Linked DNA regions of Homo sapiens: region 2 is linked to region 1. The links come from fine-mapping of genetic effects on gene expression. Tissue or cell type: tibial nerve. Region 1 holds a variant in brackets; the other region holds the start of a gene. All regions are shown on one strand. Distances are from middle to middle.

Region 1 (4,386 bases):
TCCTTGTCCACACTTATTATTGTCTGTCTTTTTGATTATAGACACCCAATAGGTGTGAAGTATATCTCATCACGGTTTTGCCAATCTCAAAGGGCATGGATTTTGTTTCATTAAATAATGTGGTGATTTTCTTTTTCTTTTTTTTTTTGAGATGGAATCTCACTCTGTCGCCCAGGCTGGAGTGCACTGGCATGATCTCAGCTCACTGCAAGCTCTGCCTCCCGGGTTCACGCCATTCTCCTGCCTCAGCCTCCCGAGCAGCTGGGACTACAGGCGCCCACCACCACGCCTGGCTAATTTTTTGTATTTTTAGTAGAGATGGGGTTTCACTGTGTTAGCCAGGATGGTCTCGATCTCCTGACCTCGTGATCCGCCCGCCTCAGCCTCCCAAAGTGCTGGGATTATAGGCATGAGCCACTGCATCCGGCCATAATGCGGTGATTTTCTTGACCTATTCTGTAAGTCCCTTTCCTCTTCCTGATAACTCACTTTTCAGAGTCACCATATTTACTCCCGTGGTTTTCATTGCTACGTATACACCAATGACTCCCAAACCTACCTGTCAAGCCTAGATCTCCTTTCTGAGCCCCAGATCTTTTTTTTTTTTTTTTTTTTTTTTTGAGATGGAGTCTCACTCTGTCGCCCAGGCTGGAGGGCAGTGGTGCAATCTCAGCTCACTGCAACCTCCACCTCCTGGGGTCAAGCAGTTCTCCAACCTCAGCCTCACGAGTAGCTGGGACTGCAGGCTCGCACCACCATGCCCAGCTAATTTTTGTATTTTTAGTAGAGATGGGGTTTCACTATGCTGGCCAGGCTAGCCTCGAACTCCTGACCTCGTGATCTGCCCGCCTCAGCCTCCCAAAGTGCTGGGATTACAGGTGTGAGCCACTGCGCCCAGCCCAGATCTTTATTAATGCCAACCTGTTAGGCATTTAAATTTTGTCATGGCCAAAACAGTTGATCATCTCAAGTGCCACCCTCATCTCCCCGCTCCATATTCCCCGCCATGGTTATAAGCATCACTCTCTAACCAGGCAACCAAACTGGAAATCAGGGAGTCATCCTCCACTTCTCCTCGGCATTGTCCACTTCACTGAATCTTATTAACTGTACCCTAGAAATGTCCATGGAATGCATCTCCACTCCTCTGTGTTCACTGCTCAGCCTGGTCCAAGATCTCATCATTTCCTTTCTTTTTTTCTCTTCTTTCTTACTTTTTTATTTATTTATTTATTTTTATTTTTAGAAACAGGGTCACACTATGTTGCCCAGGCTGGTCTCAAACTCCTGGGCTCAAGCAAGCCTCCTGCCTTGGCTTCCCAAAGTGCTGAGATTACAGGCGTGAGCCACCGCGCCCAGCCTCCCACCCCCTATTCTATATTCGCTGGGTCCTGCACTGTGTAGAGGCCACTTGGCCTCCTTGATTTAATGGCTTGACATCCTTGTTTGCTCCCTGTCTTCCCAGTAGGTCTTGGCTTTTCTTTCTCCCTTCCAGTAGAATATCCAGACCCACCTCCTAATTGTCCTTGAGCTTAAAGACTCAGCTTACTCCTCAGCTATTTCTCAACTATGATTGACTTCCTCAGCAAGCAAGTGGAATTCTGGTCTCTGTGGCCTTGGCATAGGAAAAACCGGTGTCTCCAAGGGCCTCAGCTGCTAAAAGGGAGCTGCATTTAGGAGTTGTATTGACCCTGTAGCATGATGTCTTTCCAGAACAATTCACAAGGCCTGGGAAAGTATGTCATTTTACTGGGGTAGTAATCCCCAGTCAGAGAGTCAATGGTGGGTGGGAGGCTGAGGCGGG[C/T]GGATCGTCTGAGGTCAGGAGTTCAAGACCAGCCTGGCCAACATGGAGAAACCCTGTCTCTGCTAAAAATACAAAAATTAACCAGGCGTGGTGGTGGGTGCCTGTAATCCCAGCTACTTGGGAGGCTGAGGCAGGAGAATCACTTGAACCCCGGAGGTTGAGGTTGCAGTGAGCCAAGATCATGCCATTGCACCCCAGCTGCCTGGGTGACAAGAACAAAACTTGGTCTCAAAAAAAAAAAAAAAAAAAAAAAAAAAAGAGAGAGAGCCAGTGGCGGGTGGAGATGGCATTGAAGCCAATATATTCCTTCTACTCTTTGAAGTCCTGGGCTCTTCTGGAGACTTTAGGAAGACACTGAAAAAGGCTGCTTACAATAGTTTAGTGGCCAGGATGGAGAGATGTGGACTGGAAGGTGATGCAGGTGGATGCTGATTGGTGGCTCCCTGGAGGCCTGTAGTAGGATACCAGAGAGTTCTGCCCTGGAGTCTGCCCTGGTTAGTGGACAAAAAGATCCAGAAGGCACATGTACCACACTGGCAGATTATCTGAAGCTGAGAGTCACAGTGAGCTTTTAAACAGCAGAACCAGGATTTAGAAAATTCTAGTCAGGCTGGAATGGCAGGCTTAGTCTAACAGATGAACTTTTCTAGCCCACAGAAAAGCAGCCTCAGGGAGAGGACCCAATACCTACAGAGCACTCACATAGAAGAGAAGGGGTCACCTTGCTTTATACAGTCCCTGGGAATAACAGGACCAAATGGGCTTTCTGACACAGAGTCAGGTTAAAAAAGAAGAAAAGGGGCCAGGCGTGGTGGCTCATGCCTGTAATCCCAGCACTTTGGGAGGCCAAGGCAGGCAGATCACCTGAGGTCAGGAGTTTGAGACCAGCCTGGCCAACATGGTGAAACCCCGTCTCTACTAAAAATACAAAATCAGCCGGGCATGGTGGTGGGCACCTGTAATCCCAGCTACTTGGGAGGCTGAGGCAGGAAAATTGCTTGAACCCAGGAGGCGGAGGTTGCAGTGAGTACCACTGCACTCCAGCCTGGGTGAAGGACTGAGGCTCTGACCCCCCAAAAAAAAAAAAGTTTCTGTCTTTTAGAGATACACACTGAGGCCAGGCATGGTGGCTCACACCTGTAATCCCAGCAAAAGTGAGGCCAAGGCGGGAGGATTGCTTGAGGCCAGGAGTTTGAGACCAGCCTGAGCAACATAGCAAGACCCCAGATCTACAAAAATAAAAGTTAGCCAGGCATGGTGGCACATGCCTGTAGTCCTAGATACTCGGAAAGCTGAGGCAGGAGGATCACTTGAGCCCAGGAGTTTGAGGTTATAGTGAGCTATGATCATACCACTACACTCCAGCCTGGGTGACAGAGTGAGACCCTGTCCCTAAAAAAGAAATAGAGTACACACTGAAATATGTATGCATGAAATGATACACCTGGAATTTGCTTTCAAATAATGTGAGATTGTGACAAAAATGGGTGGGCATCAGATGAAACAAGATTGGCCATATGTAGAGAATCGCTGAAGCTGGGCAATGGGTACCTTGAGGTTCATTGTGCTGTTCTCTCTAGTTTGTTGTACAGTCGAACTTTTCCACATATAAAGTTAAAAAGAAGGAGGAGGAACAAAAGAAGAAGTGTTAGCCAGGCAGAGAAGAAAGCGAGAGGACATCCTGTGTGGCAGGAGCAGCATGCATAGGCAACAAGACCCAAGAGAGCCCAGCATGGGGTAGGGCAGCAAGACCCAAGAGAGCCCAGCGTGGCTGTTCCTCACTGTAACCAGAGTGCAGGCAGGAAGGGGAGGGCGCACAGAGGCAGGCACAGGCCAGGTCACGGAGGGCTTTGTTGCCATGCTACAAAGTCTGCACTTCATCCTGAAAGCATGGGAGCCATGGATCAGAATCACATTTTGAAAGGTCTTTCTGGAGACAGAGTGCACTCAAAGAGAAGGAAGACAGGAGGCAGGGGGTTCAGTGGGGAGGCAAGAGATGATGGAGGCCGCAAACACAGCAATGGTGAGGGGATGTGAGGAAGCTAATCTCAGCTATGTTAGGAAGGTGGGATGAAGGGAACGTGGTGAGGGAAAAAGGAAGCGTCAAGGCTGATGTCCCAGTGTCTGTGGGGTGGGAGAGCCATTCCTGAAGAGGGAGAAGGCGGGAAGACAGAGAGCTGCACCATCCCTGATCCCTGGCCTCTTAGGCCTAGGACTGGCTACAGAATTTGCAGGGCTTAGCGCAAAATGAAAATGTGCTCAAGAATTACTAAAACTTTCAAGACGATGACAGCAGAGAATTAAACCAAGCGTAGGGCCCTCTGAGCATGGGGCCCTGGAGCACTGCAGAGGTCAGACACCATAAAGCTGCTCCTGCTTTAGCCAATGTACCCTTTTCTGTTTAGAAGGAACAGGAGAGGGGCTGTATGAAAGCCAGGCCTCCTGCTCACAGCCCCAGGCAGTAAAAGAACAGTATGTTCCTTCTGCCACCCTCCGGGACCTAAGTGGGACCCAGAAGCCTGGGACAAATAGCTTGCATTTGTGTAGATCTTTACAACATTTCCCAGACTTGCTTGGGTTTT
Region 2 (4,386 bases), 26 kb before region 1:
CTTTCTTTCTTTCTTTCTTTCTTTCTTTCTTTTTTGAGATGGGGTCTTACTCTGTTGCCCAGGCTGGAGTACAGTAGCGTGATCACAGCTCACTGCAGCCTCAACCTTCTGGTCTCAAGCAATCCTCCCACCTCAACCCCCTGAGTAGCTGGGACAACAGATGCTCACCACCACATCAGGCTAATTTTGTTTTTTTTTTTTTTTTGGAGAGATGGGGGTCTCATTATGTTGCCCAGCCTGTTCTTGAACTCCTGGACTCAAGCAATCCTCTTGCCTTGGCCTCCCAAAGTGCTGGGATTACAGACATGAGCCACTGCACCTGGCCTGATTTTGTATCTTTAGTGATATCTCTTGCTCTTAGAACAATGCCTGATATATAATAGGCACTTGATAAATCACTCAATAAATATATACCTACGGTTTGACCAATAAGTTGGCTACTGACTCTTAAAATGACAACCCCCAGGTTTCCCTAAAGTCTTCTTCCACTCTTCCTATCAAGTCTGCCTGCCTTCCTTCTGCCCTTCAGTCCCCCCAGTGGACACCATTCCCCTCTTCAGCCTTAACCTAAAGTTGGACTAGTGGACATTAAATGGCACGGCCAAGTTTTAGTCCCAGACGATCCCTGGACTCAGCAAATGCTGATCAAGTGACTGTCTCTCTCTGGCTTAGGATGGAAAGATGCCAGGAAAGATCGAAGCATCTACCCTGATGGGTTACACCAGGGCTTCTAGAAGGGATTTTGTGGCAGGAGGAAGGGGGGCAGGGGATTGAATGTCTCTGTGACTTGTGCAGGGCAGCATGATGGATGAGCAGTGGAAAGCCCTTCTATGAAACATGCCAGACCTGTTGCAATCGTATCTCTCCCGACGGCCCAGAATTCTGTTTCCCTGAAGACATACTAAATCGTGCTCTGGATTTATATGTGGGTGGTGACCTGCCTCTGTGCTCCCAAAGGAGGTCTGTCTACAGATGCCCGGCAGAGGAAGAAACAGATGACAACAGGGGGAGGTTTGAACCCTCTTCCCAAGAGCCTTGGAACTTCATGGAAAGTGACAGCCCTTTAAGAGTTTCCCGACTTCTGCAGATCCTTCTCTCTTTCCCAAACAGCCTGCCAGTTTTCAGTTTTGGTACACAGTAAGGATTTATTCTCTCTCTCTCTCTCTCTCTCTCTCTCTCTCTCTCTCTCTCTCCCTCTCCTGCCTAGCTATCTCTATCTCTAAGTTTGTCTTTCTGTCTCCTGTCTCTCTCTTAAGAAGTGGCCAAAGGATCCTGGAGCCTCTGATGCTCAGCCTTCAGGTCCTCCTTGGCAGAACCTGGGTAGAAAGAAAATGGGTAGGCAGGGGGTTAGGAGTAACAGCTCCTCATCTTGAATCTAGACTTTCCTGGAGCTGTATACACCTGGGAGCCCCCCAGCACATTACCAAATACTGTAGAAGGAAGTCCATGAACCACACATTGACCACAGTGATACGTCCACCCGGTGATGGAGTAGTAAAATACGCTCTTGAACGTGCCCCGGGCTGGCGAGTTCACCGGCCCTCATGGCCTCGTCCCTGCTTGTCTGGCTCTCCGTGGCTGTGATCTGCTTCTGCCAGCCTACGCATTTTTGTATCTTTTTCTCATTGCGTGGCCCCTTGTCTTTAAAAGGCTAAACTGCTCTGTACTAAATTTGGTCACGCAGCGCTCCAAGATTCCCTGGAATGTCCTCAAGTTTCAAACAGCTCTGACAGCGAGGTAGGCCCGCCCCCAGCTTGGGGATTGGCTTCTCCTCTCCGGGCCTGGCAGTTGTCGGGTCTTATTGGCCGCTGATTAGACCAGCCGGGGTCCACTAGCCCTGGGCTTCAGGGAGGCTGCTGCGTCCAGTGAACACTTCAGCACCTGTAGCACAGAAGGGCCAAGGAGCTGCAGTCCTCGACCAGCAGGAGGTTTGCTCCTCAGCCCACTCGCTGCATCCAGATCAGCTCACCCCTCTCCCTTCCCTGCCCACCAGGACTCTGATAGCCCCTGGCAGCCACAGCCCATTTTGCCAAGATGTCTAGAGTAGCCAAATATCGCCGGCAGGTGAGTGAAGACCCCGACATCGACAGCCTGCTGGAGACCCTGTCTCCCGAGGAGATGGAGGAGCTGGAGAAGGAGCTGGACGTGGTGGACCCAGACGGGAGTGTTCCCGTGGGGCTGCGGCAGAGAAACCAGACGGAGAAACAGTCCACGGGTGTGTACAACCGGGAGGCCATGCTCAACTTCTGTGAAAAGGAGACCAAGAAACTTATGCAGAGGGAGATGTCCATGGATGTGAGTGAGCACAGCCCTGGAGGGGAGGAGGGAGACAGGGGAGGGCTGGAGACCCTGGCTTCATGATTAGGATGCTTCCTTCCTTAGAAGAAACGTTCTTGTTGGCAAAGGATTTTAATGCTTCAGAACTGATGATTATCCACTGAACTAGCGGTGCGAATCTCTTACTCCTAATTTCTGTTTTATAAGCAGAAGTCGGATATGTTGGAGGAACACAACATCCCACAAAATCAAATAGAGCTACTAGTAGAATGGGAGCTGGAAGGTGTCCTTGAAGAGTCCATTGTCAAGTTGACTCCATCCTGGTCCCACAATACCTTTGTTTTTCTCCACACTCATTCCATCCTATTGTGAGGAGGGGTAAAAAGAGAGAGTGATACTTTATGTCTCCTGTCAGCCACCCAAAAAGACAAAGCTAAGCCATTTTTTGTGGGAGAATAACTCATTTTCAAGTCCCCAACCCTATGGGCATCTCACGGCACATGGATCATTTCAGGAGGCTTGGGGGTAAATGAGTTTCCCAAAGCAAAGGGAGACAGGGACCAGGAGTCTATGGGCTGGGAAATGTGGCTTAAAGACCTGATAAGCTTCAAATTTATTCCCAGGGAAGATGTTTTTTGTTGTGGTTAGTTGGTTTTTGGTTTTGTTTTGTTTTTGCACTCTCCAGAGGAGCCTCTGGAGGGAGCATGCCCTCTTTTTGGTAATTAACCCTTTAGCAGCTGGCGAGGCCGCTTTGCTGGGGGTTGAAGATAGTCATAGAGGAGGGAAAAGGGGTGACGGTTTTGGAAGCATCTGCCCACACCTACAATGGGCTTAAGCACAACTTGCTTTCTGTTTTCCTGAGTTGGCATGGAGGAATTTTTTTTTTGTCACTATTGCATTGGTATGTGAGTTTTCTTTGGACAAACTAGCCTCCGATGAAGTATGACTTTGTGGGATACCTTTGTCCATGGGAAAGAGTGTTGCATAGGAAAATTGTTCAAGTCTTTGTTCTAGTTCTCTTATTCAGCCACATCTCTTGTACATTATCCATTACTTGTGAATTCTTGCAAGAAAAAGATCAGTCTCAATTCTTGCTTTTTGTTTTACTTCTATGGAAACTGAGGCACAGAGCTTCAAATGACATGCACATTCTCACAGAGGAACTGAGAATGGGAACATTATCATCCAAAATGCCTGCGGAATGACTGGCTGGGTATGAAATTGTGTTGACTGCTAGTCACAGAGCATATTGGTGGACACAGCCCTGACTCCTTTAGTGTAGCAATGGGAAAGAAGGGAGGAGGAGGGAAGGGGGTGAAGCAAAGAGGAGCTGGAACTCTGTCTCTGTCCCTACCGCCCCCCCCCGCCCCACCACCTATGTTTAAGCCTTTGCCAAGAAGAGGGAGAAGGAGGGAGGAAGGAGGGAAGCCAGGAGGCTCAGGAATTTATTGTCCTGTATGCACAAGGTGGTTGCCCCAGATGCAGCTATGATAATGATAAATAAAACCAAAACATTTACAGAAAAAGTGGTAGCACTTACTGTGAGGGCCCGGTACCCCAACACAGCTATCAGGAATCATACAGAAAGAAATGAAATGCAGCCAAAGGCTTTGGCACCCTTGGAAATCGTTGACTCTGCTCTTCCCCACTCCCAGTCGCAGGCTCTGGGCCCATGACTGCCTTGTGTCCGGTAGCTTCCAGTGCTCAGAAAGGTACTCCTGAGGCTGAAGTCAAACAAAGCAGTCTAATCACAAGCAAGAGTGTGAAGGATTCTCCTGTTCCTGGAAATTTCACTATCATAGACTTTTTATTCAGCCAGTTAATACCGTGACAAGTGTCTCCTCCCCTGCCTCACCTCTCTCACCCCTGCCAGGTCCACACTTGGTTCTGCGGACAGAGCCCGAGTCAAGAAATAGAAGTGGTGTGTGTGTTTGTGTGTACATCCTTGATGTAAGGAGATGCCTTTAGGTCCGGTTTTCCCTTGTGGATGTAGGCTGTTCTGATCCCCTCACTCTTCCTCACCCTGTCCAGGGACGTACATTGGCATAATGGCTGGCTGGAGTTCGGGGTGCATGCTGAGCCTGGGCAGAAGTCATCTCTGTAAATCTG

Evidence for each region. PIP is the estimated chance that this variant, and not a neighbour inherited with it, causes the effect.
Region 2: it holds the start of LMOD1, and the variant in region 1 is the best candidate, but not a certain one, in a credible set for the expression of LMOD1 in tibial nerve (GTEx, PIP 0.63).

Annotation. Positions count from the first base shown.
Region 1 is chr1:201,917,722-201,922,107 of GRCh38, reverse strand. The region is part of intron 1 of LMOD1 (leiomodin 1); the gene reads left to right. Among named protein-coding and RNA genes, the nearest start is that of LMOD1, 27 kb to the left of the region's middle. The variant C/T (reference allele first, on the strand shown) is at 1,805.
Region 2 is chr1:201,943,989-201,948,374 of GRCh38, reverse strand. It overlaps LMOD1 (leiomodin 1), which reads left to right and starts at 1,827. Exons shown (of 3, transcript NM_012134.3): 1 at 1,827-2,295. The coding sequence starts at 2,035.